Linked DNA regions of Homo sapiens: all the other regions are linked to region 1. The links come from fine-mapping of genetic effects on gene expression. A gene starts in region 1. Each other region holds a variant in brackets. All regions are shown on one strand. Distances are from middle to middle.

The links. PIP is the estimated chance that this variant, and not a neighbour inherited with it, causes the effect. A credible set is the group of variants that fine-mapping cannot tell apart.
Region 2: its variant is the best candidate, but not a certain one, in a credible set for the expression of ATF5 in whole blood (TOPMed, PIP 0.63).
Region 3: its variant is the best candidate, but not a certain one, in a credible set for the expression of ATF5 in aorta (GTEx, PIP 0.53).

What each region holds. Positions count from the first base shown.
Region 1 is chr19:49,927,164-49,932,382 of GRCh38, forward strand. ATF5 (activating transcription factor 5) reads left to right here and starts at 2,042. Exons shown (of 3, transcript NM_001193646.2): 1 at 2,042-2,237; 2 at 3,569-3,865. The coding sequence starts at 3,688. NUP62 (nucleoporin 62) reads right to left here and starts at 2,341. Exons shown (of 3, transcript NM_016553.5): 1 at 2,163-2,341; 2 at 531-652. It also overlaps a transcript of IL4I1 not described here. RefSeq lists silencers at 1,872-1,931, 2,782-2,831.
Region 2 is chr19:49,903,201-49,908,419 of GRCh38, forward strand. NUP62 (nucleoporin 62) reads right to left here. Exons shown (of 3, transcript NM_016553.5): 3 at 3,625-5,219. The coding sequence ends at 5,039. It also overlaps a transcript of IL4I1 not described here. Among named protein-coding and RNA genes, the nearest start is that of IL4I1, 8.9 kb to the left of the region's middle. RefSeq lists enhancers at 3,955-4,074, 4,716-5,219. The variant T/A (reference allele first, on the strand shown) is at 3,191.
Region 3 is chr19:49,795,551-49,800,769 of GRCh38, forward strand. It overlaps AP2A1 (adaptor related protein complex 2 subunit alpha 1), which reads left to right. Exons shown (of 23, transcript NM_130787.3): 7 at 80-188; 8 at 3,252-3,402; 9 at 3,777-3,945; 10 at 4,079-4,216; 11 at 4,418-4,600. LOC124904742 (a long non-coding RNA gene) reads right to left here and starts at 4,600. Exons shown (of 2, transcript XR_007067290.1): 1 at 4,055-4,600; 2 at 1,796-2,007. RefSeq lists an enhancer at 4,674-5,174. The variant CAGA/C (reference allele first, on the strand shown) is at 2,301.

The sequences.
Region 1 (5,219 bases):
AGGTAGGTATTCTTAATGCCACTTCGTACCACAGGGGAAACTGAGGCACAGGGAAGGGAAATGGCCAGGGTCACACAGCTAGTAAGAGGGGTGCAGTCAAGTTTTGAACTCATATAATCTGGCTCCAGAGTCTATGCCAGGTATGTATAAAATTTGGCTTCCTGGGGCCACATTGAAGAATTGTCTTAGGCCACACATAACATACACTATTGATAGCTGATGAACTTAAAAAAAAATCGCAAAAAATTCGCATGTTTTGGTAAGGTTTACAAATTTGTGTTAGGCTGCATTCAAAGCTGTTCTAGGCCGCATGCAGGCCCACGGGTGGGACAAGCTCAGTCTATGCTCTTAGCTGCTACTCTGTATACTGCCTCAGTGATAACACAGCCCCTATAGGCCCAAGAAAATATAGGGCAAGTGCTCAAAAACTGGCAGAGTGGACAGTAAGTGCTCTAAGGGAAGGTGGTCAGATCCCAAGAAGGACTTCCTGCCCGCAACAGGTAAGGAAGGAGAAAGAAGCTTGTGTGTACCGCTCAGTATCAGGATTCCTCCACCTTCTCTGGACCTTGATTCAGTCTCCTAACTGCCACAGAAGGGATGAAGGTTGAACTCCAGCTGGGATGTCCTGATGTGGATGGGACAAGGTGGGTTTCTGCAACAGAGAAAAGACGGACATCCACCTCGGCTGGTGGAGGAGGGCCCAGTGCATGAGAAGGGGCAAGATGGCTACCCTGTGACTAAACGAAAACGGAGATCTTCCATTTTTGGCAGGGTTGGGAGATAGTTCCTATCCAGTGGAAGCTGAAGGACGGTTTGAAAGGAAGCCAAGGGCAAGGGATGGAGAAAAGGACGCAGCTGGGGCCTCGATGTCTGAATCCCTGCCAGGGGATGGGGCCTGGGCACCCATCATTTGGAATGGAAGATGAGGATAGCTGGAAACAGACACTTTAGAGGGATGAGGGAGACAGAAGAATGACAGCAGGTGTTGGACAGTCCAACGTCTGCGGCTCTTACAAGTGGTAAGGAAGAAATGAGACTGGGCCCCAGAGTTCCTATTAATAAAATATGCTGAGGCCGGGAGCGATGGCTCACGCCTGTAATCCCAGCACTTTGGGAGGCCGAGGCGGGCGGATCACGAGGCCAGGAAATTGAGACCATCCTGGCTAACACAGTGAAACCCCGTCTCTACTAAAAATACAAAAAATTAGCCGGGCGTGGTGGCGGGCGCCTGTAGTCCCAGCTACTCGGGAGGCTGAGGCAGGAGAATGGCGTGAACCTGGGAGGCGGAGTTTGCAGTGAGCCGAGATCGCGCCACTGCACTCCAGCCTGGGCGACAGAGACGGAGAGACTCCGTCTCAAAAAAAAAAAACAGTTGAACAGGAATGTATGAGTTGAGCTCTGTGCATAAGGCTTGCCAGACATCGTCTTATTTGAGTCTCATAAACCCACCAGGCGAGTTGATTTTTCTTATTTTACAGATAGGGAAATGAAGTAAGAGAACTTAAGTTATTTGCCCGAGGCCATCCTGGCAGGTCTGTATTTGGGAGAGTGCTGTGACTCATGCTGGACTCTAACCCACGAGGGTTTCTCAGAGTCAGCAGCTGGGGGATGAAGAAGTGAAAAGTGACTGGCAGGAAATTCTGCAAGCAAGGAAAGGGAAAGAGAAATGAACTGGTGCAGGTCTGCGGGAAGAGAATGAGGCTGGATCCTCAAAATCACAGGAGGAAGCAGGCCCAGACCTCAGAGGCAGAAAGAGAAAGAAACCAGAGCTTAGAGTCAGGAGGAGGAAACCAGACCCCGGAGCCACAAGGAGAGGGCTGGATCCCCGGCTCAGAGGGAAGAGGTCGGATCCCCAGCTGAGAGGGAGGAGGGTCCCGGACCCTAGGAGTGGGAAGGAAAGGCTCGGATCCCCTGATCCCCAGGAGGAGGGGACCCGGCTGCCTCCCGGTTGGGGCCGCGCGAGGGCGGGGCGCGGAAGGATCCGGGAGGGCCGTGCTCCGCCACCCAGTATATATCTGTCCCCAGTCCCCGGGGCCGCCTCATTCCCTGTCCTCGGATCACAGTCTCTTCTCACTACAGTGTCGCCGCCTCTGCCTGCGTAGCCCCGGCCATGGCTCTGTAGCCTCGACCCCTTTGTGCCCCCGGCCCGTCTCCGCGCTCACCACGCCTGCGCTCTCCGCTCCCACCTTCTTTCTTCAGCCGAGGCCGCCGCCGCCTCTCCTTGCTGCAGCCATGGAGTGAGTAACCGCTTACCTCTTCTCCAACTGCCTTTCCCGCCCTTTCGCAGCTCGTGGCCCTCTTTAGGGAGCCCTGGGGGGTGGGGAGTCGCGAGCGGGGAATCACGGTCGCGCAGGCGCAGAAGTAGTACGGTGGGCCGAAGGCGCGCGGCTGCGCATGCGCACTGGGCCCGGGGCCGGGTGGGAGAGTTCTAGACTCGATGTTTGTCAGCCCGCGTGCAGCTGGGCCTGAGCACTCCAGGGGAGGGTGTGTTTTTTTTTTTTCTAAACGATTCTTCGTGCTTGGTTGTTCCTGCGCAGTAGCCCACCAGTGCCCCGTAGTGAAAGAGCTGCGGACCCTGAATGGCCGCACATGCGCATTGATCCCCAAGAGGGCGGAGGTGTAAAGGCAATTGGACCGCTCGGGCGACGTAGCATGCGCCTTGGCCCTCGGCGCAGAGCCGCGTGTGGACGGGTGGCGTTCGGGTAGCCGTTCTCCGCGTGCCCCCTCTACCCTCCTCCACCCTCCCTGCCCCACGTTGCTCTGGCTCACAGCCCAGCTTCCTTCCTTTTAAACCAGGCACCTGCTGAGGCGGGGACTGGCTTAGATTGACAGGGCAGAAGGCGGGACCCAGAGGCAACCCTCTAAGTGGGTGGGGATAGAACCACTGTCGTCACGATGGGTGGGATTTCGGAAGCACATTGTGAGAAGGGGCGGGGCTAAACCAACCGTTAGTTGAGGGGTGGGGTTTCGATGTGACAAAGAGGCGGGGCCTCTGGGGAATCGGGGGAGGGGCGGAGCTAAATAAACAATGAGGGGCGGGGCTTGGAGGGGCAGCGGCAGAGCGAGGAGTGGGATTTGAGTGGATAACATTGCTGAAGGGCTGCGGCCTGGGGCAGTTCCCCTGGGAACTGGTTTGGGATGGAAGCTAGGAAGGCAGTGGGGCCAAAAGGAAATATTTTAGAGGAAGGGGCGTGGCTGGAAGAAAATGTCCCTGGGATTGAGTTTTTCCTTGAGGCGAAATATTCTGAGGTGGATGGGAGGGGCCTAAGGTAATTCCCCTGGGAGACCTTTAGGTTTTTTTTTTCTGTATTGGGGGAAGGGGTGGGGCATCGGTCCTACTTTAGGACCTAAAGAAATTCCCTTGGGAGTGGGTGGGGCTCAGAGATTTGGGTAAAGAAAGGGCAAATTTAGAATTCGGAGAGGCTGAGGCTTAGTGTTCTAAACGGTGGTTGGAAGGGGGAGGGAGGAGCCTCATGGACGTGCCTGGGGGTGTGGCTTGGCTTCCCCTTGATTTTGGCCGGTGGATGACGCTGTCCTGACCACACCCACTCTTGTCTCACGCGTGTAGGTCTTCCACTTTCGCCTTGGTGCCTGTCTTCGCCCACCTGAGCATCCTCCAGAGCCTCGTGCCAGCTGCTGGTGCAGCCTCTCCTGTTGCCATCAGTGCCCAGCACCTGTGCTACAGCCATGTCACTCCTGGCGACCCTGGGGCTGGAGCTGGACAGGGCCCTGCTCCCAGCTAGTGGGCTGGGATGGCTCGTAGACTATGGGAAACTCCCCCCGGCCCCTGCCCCCCTGGCTCCCTATGAGGTCCTTGGGGGAGCCCTGGAGGGCGGGCTTCCAGTGGGGGGAGAGCCCCTGGCAGGTAAGGGCAGGTGGAAGGTGGAGCTGGGGAGTGGAGGGCAGGGGAAGATGGGGGAGGAAGAACTCATCCATGTATTCAATAAATATTGAGTGCCTACAATGTGCCAGGCACTGTTTTAGGTGCTGAGGATACGGCTGGGAACAAGAAGAACATGGTCTGTGCCTTCCAGCAGCTCACACTGTGGGGAGTAGACCAGAGATAAATTAAATGAGAGTGTATTGGAATAAGTCAAAAACACCTAGCAGCTGAGCTACAAAATGACAAAGGGGACCTAATATAGAATGGGTAGCCAGAAAACCTTCTCCAAGTAGGTAACATGTTGACTGAGGCATAAATGATGGGAAGGAAGCCAGGCATGATGGCCTGTAATCCCAGCACTTTGGGAGGCCAAGCGGGGAGAATTGCTTTAGTCCAGGAGTTCAGGACGTGGGCAACATAGCGAGACCTCATATCTATAGGAAAAAAAAAATTAGCCAGGCATGGTGGCTCACGCTTGTAGTCACAGCTACTTGGGAGGCTGAGGTGGGAGGATCGCTTGAGCCTGGGAGGTCTAGGCTGCAGTGAGCCAAGATGATGCCACTGCACTGCAGCCTGGGCAACAGAGTGAAACCCTATCCCTTAAAATAAAAAAAAAGTAGGGAAGGAATGAGGAAAACACCCAAGGGAAGAGCATTTTAGTTGGAGGGAACTGTATATGCAGAAGCCCTCAGGAGGCAGGAATCATTTCATTCATTACTGTATCCCAAATGCTTGGCACATAGTGGGTTTTCAATAATTAATGAGTAAAGATGAAACAAGGCATATGTGCGTGTGTATCTGTGTGTGTAATGTGATCTAGTTTGCCTTTTAAAAAGAGAGAATAGAGACACCACAGATACAGAGTACTCGGTAAAGGAGATGTTGGAATGGTTGAAGAAATGCTTGGTTGACTGTTGCTTGAGTCATTGGTTGGTTGGCTGGTTCTTTTTTTCTTTTTTAATTTTTTTTTTCTCCTGGACCCTCTTATGGGTTAAGACTGATTCTTTCATTGGCTAATTTGTTGGGTTTTGGTTAACTGGTTCATTGGTTGATTAATGGGTTGATTGGTTGGTTGACTGATTTATTTGGTTGGTTGACCGATTCCCTGATTGATTGGTCGACTAGTTCATTGGTTGGTTGGTTGGTTGGTTGGTTGACTGGGTGGTTAGATGGTTGATTGTTGGTTGGTTCGTTGACTGGTTTATTGGTTTCTTCACTGGTTTGTTGGTTTATTGACTGGTTTGATGATTCAGTGGTTAGTTGTTTTACTGAATGAATGGGACAGATGCACCTGAATGAGACGTGAGTCAGCACCCAACTACGCAGAAGACCAGCA
Region 2 (5,219 bases), 24 kb before region 1:
TCAGTAAGTGTCACTATCAGTTCTGTGGATTCAAGGGAACTAGGGTATCTGAGGTGACCCCAGGGCACCAGGCTAGTCCCCATCACGGCAGCGCACCCGGTCTGCTTCTTGCCTCGGGAAACCTTTGGCGTCTGAGAGGGTTCAACCTGATGGTGTCTGGAGGGGAGACGGGACAAGGGCGCCCATGTGGGTCACTGTGTTTGAAGTCACCAGGGCCCTGGTGTGCAGAAGCCAAGGGTGTGGTCCTGTGGGACAGGCAGGGGAACAGCCGGGGTCACTGAAACCTGGCTGGGGGGCTGGCTGCTGTGCAAGAAGCAGACCTCGCTTCCGAGCGTGAGGGCTTTGCTCCCTGGGAGGTTCTGTGGAGAGCCGCTGCCCTGAGTCTGAGGGGCAGATTTTTAAAGCACCCTGACATTTTTGGGGTTTACTGAAAACTTGGGAGCAGTGGTGTGCTGAAGCTGAGTCATACCAGGTCATAAGAGCTGATTTACATTTTCAGGAGTTTTTGCTTTGCAAGCCACTCATTACTAAAAAATAAATTGTATTGATGATTAGTTTTTACTAAAAAAGAATAAAAAGTCATCATTCCCTCATGGTTTGACTACATATTATACTGTTATATGTGCTGGGTTTTTTTTTTTTTTTTTTTTTTTTTTGAGACAGGGTCTCACTTTTGTTACCCAGGCTGGAGTGCAGTGGTACGATCTCGGCTCACTGCAATGTCTGCCTCCCAGGTTCATGTGATCCTCCCACCTCAGCCTCCAAGTATCTGAAACTACAGGCAGGAGCCACTACGCCAGGCTAATTTTTGTATTTTTGTAGAGACGAGGTTTCGCCATGTTGCCCAGGCTGGTCTCAAACTCCAGACCCCAAGTAATCTACTCCCCTTGGCCTCCCCAAAATGTCGGGATTACAGGCATGAGCCACCACACCCAGCCCCCATTTGCCACTCTTATCCCTAAACAGGGGAAAGCAAAGCAGTAAGAGCTGAGATTCACCTTTAAAAGCCTCTGATTCCAAATTTAGTCACCAAATGTGTTGTCTTCATATGAATTAATGAGGAACTTAAGGAAAGGCCATTTGTCAGGACTGGGAAGGAAGCACATCTGTGTATTTTCTTCCTGGAAAGGGAAACTGAAATTACGATGGAGCCATCACCCGCGGTGGCACCCAGTCGGTTGCTGATGCTGCTGCGATCTCGGGATCCCTCCTAGACTCCCCCAGGAGGCCTGTTGGGACCATTTCTCACATGGCTTTGGGGCACAGAGCCTCCTGATTTAATGGAATCACTTGTGTTATTCAGAGTGGGGTGCTCAAGATCCTTTGGGGTATGGGAAGAAAATGCAGAACTTAAAATTTTTTTTTTGAGATGAAGTCTAACTTTGTTGCCCAGGCTGGAGTGCAGTGGCGCGATCTTGGCTCACTGCAACCTCCGCCTCCCAGGTTCAAGTGATTCTCCTGAGTACCTGGGAGTTACAGGCACCCACCACCACGCCGGGCTAATTTTTGTATTATTTATTTACTTATTTGAGACGGAGTCACTCTTTTGCCCAGGCTGGAGTGCAGTGGCTTGATCTCTGCTCACTGTAAGCTCCGCCTCCCGGGTTCATGCCATTCTCCTGCCTCAGTCTCCCGAGTAGCTGGGACTATAGGCGCCTGCCACCACACCCGGCTAATTTTTTTATATTTTTAGTAGAGACAGGGTTTCACCGTGTTAGCCAGGATGGTCTCGATCTCCTAACCTCGTGATCCGCCCACCTTGGCCTCCCAAAGGGCTGGGATTACAGGCATGAGCCACCGTGCCCAGCCCCTAATTTTTGTATTTTTAGAAGATACGGGGTTTCACCATGTTGGCCAGGCTGGTCTCAAACTCCTGACCTCAGGTGATCCACCCGCCTCGGCCTCCCAAAGCTGGAATTTATTTTAAAAATATAACTATAAGAAAGCAATTAAGCTTTGCTAATGGTTAATATACAAAATAGGAAATAATATGCAAAATAATAGGAAAAATATACATGTACACTTTGGAAATACATGCTCAAATTTTCTCATCATGATTGTGTGGCCCCTGCCAACGACCTTGTGGGCATTTTTTGGTACCTCCAGCACCAGATCAGGATCAGCTCTAAAAATGGATGCTGAACGCACAAATGTAGGTAAAATGCAAACTGCTTCCTACCTCCTAAGGGGACTCAAGGCCTCCCTTCCGGCAGAGGGGACAATATGAGTCAAGGCCTATGAACTGCAGGAAAAGGTCCCTGCTGTAGGTGACAGCTTTCAGAGAGAAGTAGCTGGGTTGTGGGGTCTTCCTCTGGTTTACTGCTCCCACCACACACACCCATGGTTTCTACTTAGACACAACTCTTGTCCTCCAGAGCCCAAGATGGTGCAAGGAAATTTTATTTATTTATTTGAGACGAAGTTTCGCTTTTGTTGCCTAGGCTGGAGTGCAATGGCATGATCTCGGCTCACTGCAACCTCCACCTCTCGGGTTCAAGCGATTCTCCTGCCACAGCCTCCCGAGTAGCTGGGATTACAGGCGCCCGCCACTTAACTAGCCACCAGCTCATGTTTGTATTTTTGGTAGAGATGGGATTTCTCCATGTTGGCCATGCTGGTCTCGAACTCCTGACCTCAGGTGTTCTGCCAGCCTTGGCCTCCCAAAGTGCTGGGATTACAGGTGTGAGCCACCGCACCTGGCCGGTCCAAGGAAATAATGACTCATGATCATGACTTCGGGAGACTTTTGGAACCTGGGCCATGAATCTCCCAAGTGTTGCCCACAGACTGAGATGGAACAGGCAGCAGGAGGCCAAAGGGGTACACTCCACTCCCCACAGCCCAGGAGATCTGAGTGCTTAGGACCATTCCAGTCCATAGAGCGAGGCTGGAGGGTGGAGGAAGAGCATTGGGCCCGTGTCTTTAGCCCCAGGTGACAGGAAGGAATGCTGCCCATGACATCTGTAACCACTGGAATAGCGCCTTAGGGATGGTACTAGATGACTTAACATGTGTGTATATTTTTTGAGACAGAGTCTTGCTCTGTCGCCCAGGCTGGAGTGCAGTGGTGTGATCATGGCTCACTGCAGCCTCAAAGGCCTGGGCTTAAATGATCCTTCCATCTCAGCCTCCCAGGTAGCTGGGACCACAGTTGCGTGCCACCACGCACAACCAAACTTTTTTGTAGTTT[T/A]TATAGAGACGGGGTTTCACCATGTTGCCCAGGCTGGTCTTGAATCCCTGACCTCAAGTGATCTGCCCATCTTGGCCTCCCAAAGTGCTGGGATTACAGGTGTGAGCCACCTCGCCCAGCCATATTTGTGTATATTCTACGACATAACTGTCACAAAACACCTGGAGCCCACTCCCCGTGGCGGCTTCACTCGTGTGTTCCTCTTCTACCACTAGCACCACCCCTTCCTGGAGCAAACCACGATTTGCATTTGTCTATTACTCTGTCTCATCAAACAAAAGCTGCTTCATCGCATACCCCTATGTCTATGCAAGCACTACTTCATTTGCTTGCCTGTGCGTTTCATGTGAATGGCACCCCTGCAGAGTCTCCTGGAACCTGCTCTTTTTACTCAGCTTTCTCCTCCTAACATTTATCCATATTAACAGCAGCTGTTTTGGTTTCACAATACATTTATTTAGAAAAGCAACATACAGTAATAGGTATTTCAGAGAATTCAGCAAAGTATAAAGACAAATACAAAAGATGCTTGGGATACAACCGCTAGCTTCTGCCTTCCACACACAGTGGATTTTACTGTAACTGACTAGAGTTACTCTGGTGCCACTAAGTTCCGAGCCAAGTCTACGGCCACCACTGGAAGCTGTGGCTATTTCTGTGGACTGACGTTACACTGGGCTTCATTGTTCTTTCATTTAACAAATGTGACAGGGACCGGGCTGGGGACACACGGGGAACGACAGTGGGTCTCTGCCCATGGGAACTCACAATCTAACAGCGAGACGAGGCACAAACGGCTAGCACAGGATAGCATAACAAGTGCCACCCAAGGTACAGGCTCAGGGTGCTACGGGGACCTGCAAGAAGGCCACCTGAGCTTCGGGTAGCTGGGAAGGCTTCCTGGAGGAGGTGAGGCCCAAGGTGGGGGTGAGCCTGGGCCAGGCAAAAGGCAGGCCTCTCGGCGCCCATCTGTGGTTCCTCAACACCCTGTGTGTGCAGGCCCCTCAGCTGACCTGTCTTCTGTGAAATTCTTGATCCCGCTCTGTTCTATTCACACTGTGCTGCTTTGCCTTGGTGGTTAGCATGGTTAGCTTTCACAAGCACAAGCTCACACTCGAAAACTAGGCTGCTGTCTCCTGGGAGTTTCTTTTTTTTTTTTTTTTTTTTTGAGACAGAGTCTCTGTTGCCTAGGCTGGAGTGCAGTGGTGTGATCTTGGTTCACTGCAACACCTCCTGGGTTCAAGTGATTCTCCTGCCTCAGCCTCCCGAGTAGCTGAGATTGAGATCACAGGCGTCCACCACACCTGACTAATTTTTGTATTTTTAGTAGAGACGGGGTTTCACCATGTTGGCCAGGCTGGTCTCGAACTCCTGACCTCAAGTCATCTGCCCGCCTTGGCCACCCAAAGTGCTGAGATTACAGGGGTGAGCCACTGCGCCCTGACTTGGAGGTTCTCTTACATTTGGTATTTTTTCATGACACCTATGACTATGCTTTGGAGAGAGTGGCTGCCCCCACGACCCTGGCTGGGACCAAGACCATCAGCACTTCTCCATCACCAGGCTGAGCCAGGATGAGGTGGGTGGTCGCAGTAGGTGAAAAGGGGCCAAAGATACTCAAATGAAAGCCACAGAAGCCACACCCATGAGGCTGCTGCCTGGGCAGAAGGCCCAGAATACCCTCCTAAATGGAAAAACGCAAAGCACACAGCGATCATGTCAAGGGCAGTCATGTGAAAGAAAGAAACAAACAAACAAGTATCTTGCCACAACCCCAAACTACAGACAACAGGGCGCATTCCCCTCATGAACTCCCTAGGGACCTGCGGGCCCCAGGGCTGCTGTCGCTCAGTCAAAGGTGATCCGGAAGCTGCGCTCCTGCTCCTTGCGCCGGCCCTCGCACACCTTGGTCACCTCCTCCACCTTCCTCTGCAGCAGGGCCGAGTTCTGGTCGATCCACTGCAGTGAGTCCATGTGCGCATTGAGGATCTTGCAGATCTGCTGCAGTGGGTCACTGGTGTCGGCGGGG
Region 3 (5,219 bases), 130 kb before region 1:
ATTTGCTCCACCCTGGCATGTGGACCCACGTGCCCCTCCCACCCCAGCCCCCAACTTATTTCTTGCTCTTCCCCGCCAGATCGTCTCCTCTGCCTCCACCGACCTCCAGGACTACACCTACTACTTCGTCCCAGCACCCTGGCTCTCGGTGAAGCTCCTGCGGCTGCTGCAGTGCTACCCGCCTCCAGGTAATGAACGCCGTGCACTCCCCAACCCGGGGTGGCCTGCTGCTGGCATCTGGGGGCCTCCTGCTCCACGGCGCACCAGGTGGGACTGGAGGGTCTGGGTCAGGATTTCTCTGAAGCTGGGGCGGTTCCTCTGTCCCCTTACGTGGCTGCACTCGGGGAGGCAAGCAGGCAGCCCGAGGCCCAGCGCCTACCCTGTGCAGCATCGTGGATCAGCCTCATAGCTGAGGTCCCTGCTACCCGGGCTCTCACTCCAGCCCTGTTGCGAGGGACTGTTAACTGTGCCTGTTTTATAGATGAGGAATCTGAGGCTTGGAGAGGGAGCTCCTGGCCCAGCGTCACTCACCCGGTCAGTGGGTGATTCCAGGCCGTGCTACCTGAATTACCATAGCCCTGTCAGGGGTTTTCACATCTGTTGGGAACCTTCCCCTACTGCTCACAGTCACAATAGCCAGTGTGTATGAAACTCCTGTAGTGAGCCAGGCACTGGGCAGGGGGCACCTGCACCTGCCGAACAGAGCTGGCAAGGAGGAACAGCCAGTGTGATATGCACACAGGGAAACTGAGGCTTGGAGGTGAGACATCACCATTCTAGGCAGTAAGTGGCAGTTGGCCCCCAGACTCTCTGCTCTAAACCCCTCCCTCTGCCACTGAGCTCCCCCGAGCTTCTGTCGCCTTGGCTGACTGACCTCATGGAGCAGTTTCTTCGGACCCTGTGCTGAGGGGCTTGGCACACAGTAGGTGCTAATGCACCAGTTCCCTCCATTCAGCCAGCATGTCCAGCACCTGCCAGGGGCCAGGGCTGATGTACACCACCAAATCTCTGGGTGTGCATGCCTGTCTGTGTGCATGCCTGCATGCGTGCATGCGTTCGCCTGTGTGTGTCGATACCTGCCCGTGTGCATGCATGTCTGCGTGCATCCCCTGTGTGTGGATGTGTCATTGTGTGTGCATCTGTATGTATGCGTGTCTGTGTCTATATGTGGCAGTGTTCATGGTATCTCTGTGTCCCTCTATGTGTGTACATGTGTATATATCAGTGTGTGCATCTACATGTGTACCTGTGCATGCAAGTGGATGTGTACATGAGTGTAGATACCTGTGTGCATGCCTGTGTGTGCGTGTCTCAATGCTTGCCAGCATCTACGTGTGTCCATGCATGTCCCTCTGCACATGGTGTGTGTGTACACACTCTGAGTATACGATATGGAGGTGACACCAGAGGCCCATCGTGTGTGAAGCCAGTGATGAATTCTGTTGTGTGGCCCTGGGGACATGTCTTCCTTCTCTGGGCCTCTTTTTCGTCCTGTCAAGAAGGGCTTAAGTCATGCTCTAAGCCCATGACCACCCCAGAAGGCCCAGCTGGTAATTCTGGGGTACACCCATTGCAGGCACCTCACCCACTCCAACCCTCGGTGGTGTAGGAACTGGAGACACAGCCTTGTCCTGAGGCTGGGCCTGAGGACACACCAACCCTGTGTCACCTCCTTTTCAGCAAATGGTGGTGGGCTATTGCCAATTTGTTTGCAAGTCATTTTTTTGTCATATGCATTATGAAAAGTTTCCCAGCATCCAGATAAGTACAGAGATTTCATTACTTGGACTTCACATTTTGCCATGTATGCATGCTCTTGTTTATTTTCTTCTGAAATATTTAAAAGTAAATTACAGACATCATGATGTTTTGCCTTTAAATATGTTGTTCTGGGCCAGGCACAGTGGCTCACGCCTGTAATCCCAGCAATCTGGGAGGCCGAGGTAGAAGGATCACTTGAGCTCAGGAATTCGAGACCAGTCTGGCCAACATGGCAAAACCCCATCTCTACAAAAAATACAAAAAATTAGCCAGGTGTGGTGGTGCATGCCTGTAGTCCCAGCTACTCAGGAGGCTGAGATGGGAAGATCGCTTGAACCCGGGAGGTGGAGGTTGCAGTGAGCCAAGATTGTGCCACTGCACTCCAGCTTGGGTGACAGAGTGAGACTCTGTCTCAAAAAAAAATAAAAAAATAAAAAAACAGAATATATATCACAGTACAATCTAGGATCACATATTCAATCGGATTCTGCCAGGCTCAGTGGCTAACACTGTCATCCCAGCACTTTGGGAGGCTGAGG[CAGA/C]AGGATCGCTTGAGCCCAGGAGTTTGAGATCAGACTGGACAACATAGTTGCCCTGTTTCCAAAAAATAGGATTTAAATTGGATTCTGTCTTTGTTATTTCTCGTAGTCTGGACTAGCCCCCCTACACCTGTTTATGGAGAAACCAGGAGATGCCATTGCTGTGTGTCCCATGGTGGCGACTGGGCTCATTGCTGCCTTGTGGTGTATTTTAGCTTGTTCCTCTATCTGGTGAATTTTCCTGCGGAAAATTCTGCAGAAAAATCTGCGGAACCATTTTTTGCTGGAACGCTTGACAGCTCTTGCATACACTTGAAAACACGTCACATTCTAGGAAACGTGGTGATTGGTGCTCCTGTGAGCTGCTGGCTGGCATCTGTCAGTGGTGGAGAGCTCTGGGGGGTGAGGGGGCACCTGGTTGAGCCTTGTCTCCTTTGGCCTCCCAGCCTCTAGGCCAGGAGGATGGCACCGAGTGTGCCTGCAGTGGCCTCTTGCTGAATGGACACTTGGGTGGGTGGCTTGTGCATTTTTGTCAGGGGCTGCTCAGCACTCACACCAGTCCTTGGGAAGGCCTGGGTTTGGGGGCACCTCTGGGGAAGGTTCCTGGAGCTTCCTTTGCTCTGTGAGAAACCTAAGGAGCCTCAGAGCTGCAGATGAGGAAACTGAGGCTCACATGGTGCCACCTCTTGCCCGAGAGGGTCAGAGCAGGAGGAGAGCCCAGGTCTGGGGATAGATCTTGTGTCTCCAGAGGTGCCTTGTCTCACCATCTCTGCTGGGCTGGGAAGAGGTTGAGGGAGCAGAGACCCTGGCCCTGAGCTGCAGAATTCTCGAGTGTCAGAGGCACCCCGAGCTCCTCCTTTGGAAGACAGGAGCTGGGGCATGGCCACCACCCCAGCAGGTGTGCCAGGTGGGCAGGACACTCAGCCGGGGGCGTCCCCTTCGTTTCCCCAGAGGATGCGGCTGTGAAGGGGCGGCTGGTGGAATGTCTGGAGACTGTGCTCAACAAGGCCCAGGAGCCCCCCAAATCCAAGAAGGTGCAGCATTCCAACGCCAAGAACGCCATCCTCTTCGAGACCATCAGCCTCATCATCCACTATGACAGGTGCCCGCCTGGGCCTATCAGGGCCTGATGCCTGGGGCCAGGAAAGAGGGGCATGGAGGCCCGGACTCCTGAGTCCTAGGCAGAGGGCAGGGAATCTTGACTTTTAGGTAGGGTAGGAGGAGGATGGGGCTGTGAAGTGTCACCTGTGAGGTTGGTGCTGGGGCCCTTCCTGGGGGCAGAATTGCTAGGTATCTTTCTCTGGGCTCAAAGGCCCAGTTGTCTGGGTCACTGGAGGTGCAGTACTGCGATGCAAGGCCGGCAAGGTTAAGACCTGGATCCTTGGGGGCTGTGAGATGGGTCAGCTGGGGCCCGAGTCCTCCACCTTCTCCTGTCAGTTTCTCTCACCATCCCTCTCTTGTGGCCCCTGCTGGCAGTGAGCCCAACCTCCTGGTTCGGGCCTGCAACCAGCTGGGCCAGTTCCTGCAGCACCGGGAGACCAACCTGCGCTACCTGGCCCTGGAGAGCATGTGCACGCTGGCCAGCTCCGAGTTCTCCCATGAAGCCGTCAAGACGCACATTGACACCGTCATCAATGCCCTCAAGGTGTGAGCCCTTGGAGCCCACCCCGGGCCTGCCACCCCCCTCAGAAAGACCAGAGGCTCAGAGGCCCTTGGGTGGCCAACCCTGTGCCAACAGGGAGTCTAAAACACACCTGGGCTCTGCTCTCCGCCCTCAGACGGAGCGGGACGTCAGCGTGCGGCAGCGGGCGGCTGACCTCCTCTACGCCATGTGTGACCGGAGCAATGCCAAGCAGATCGTGTCGGAGATGCTGCGGTACCTGGAGACGGCAGACTACGCCATCCGCGAGGAGATCGTGAGTGCTGTGGGGTGCGGGCTGGACTCTTGGGTCTGAGGCAGGAGGTGGCTGGGGGCCTGGATTCCTAAGTCTAAGGGAGGAGGGGCTGGGGCCTGGACTCCTGGGTCTCCAGATGGGGGCAGTGGTGAGCCCAGATCCAGGTGAGTGAAAGCCCGACATGGCCTGCGGCACACTCTCTCTCACACGCCCCGGCGGCAGGTCCTGAAGGTGGCCATCCTGGCCGAGAAGTACGCCGTGGACTACAGCTGGTACGTGGACACCATCCTCAACCTCATCCGCATTGCGGGCGACTACGTGAGTGAGGAGGTGTGGTACCGTGTGCTACAGATCGTCACCAACCGTGATGACGTCCAGGGCTATGCCGCCAAGACCGTCTTTGAGGTCAGCATCCCTGACCCTGACCCTATGACCCCACGACAGGACCTAGAGGCAGAGCAAGGATGGCCGGGGCCGTGGCGCCTGCCAGCCCGCAGCCACCCTCCTTCTCCTGCACTGCCGTGACCTCAAAATGGGGCCTCTGCCTCTCTGGGCCAACCCAGGGGACCCAGGGCTATGGTCTCATGGGCCTGATGTGAGGAGTCCCCAGGGCATGGGCATGGGGCACCCAGTGTGCAGTCCTGGCCCCCGGATCTCGGTAGTTTCCCTCTGCCCCAGGAAAGGGGCCCCACACAGTCCTGTTTTTTGTTTGTTTGTTTGTTTGTTTCTGGAGACGGAGTCTCACTCTGTTGCCCAGGCTGGAGTGGGGAGTGAGTGCCGTGGTGCGATCTCGGCTCACTGCAACCTCGGCCTCCCAGCGTCAAGCCATTCTCCTGCCTCAGCCTCCCCAGTAGCTGGTACTACAGGCACGCGCCACCACACCCAGCTAATTTGTTTGTATTTTTAGTAGAGACGGGGTTTCACCATGTTACCCAGGCTGGTTTGAAACTCCTGAGCTCAGGCAATCTGCCCGCCTCGGCCTCCCAAAGTACCAGGATTACAGGCATGAGCCACTGCTTCCGGC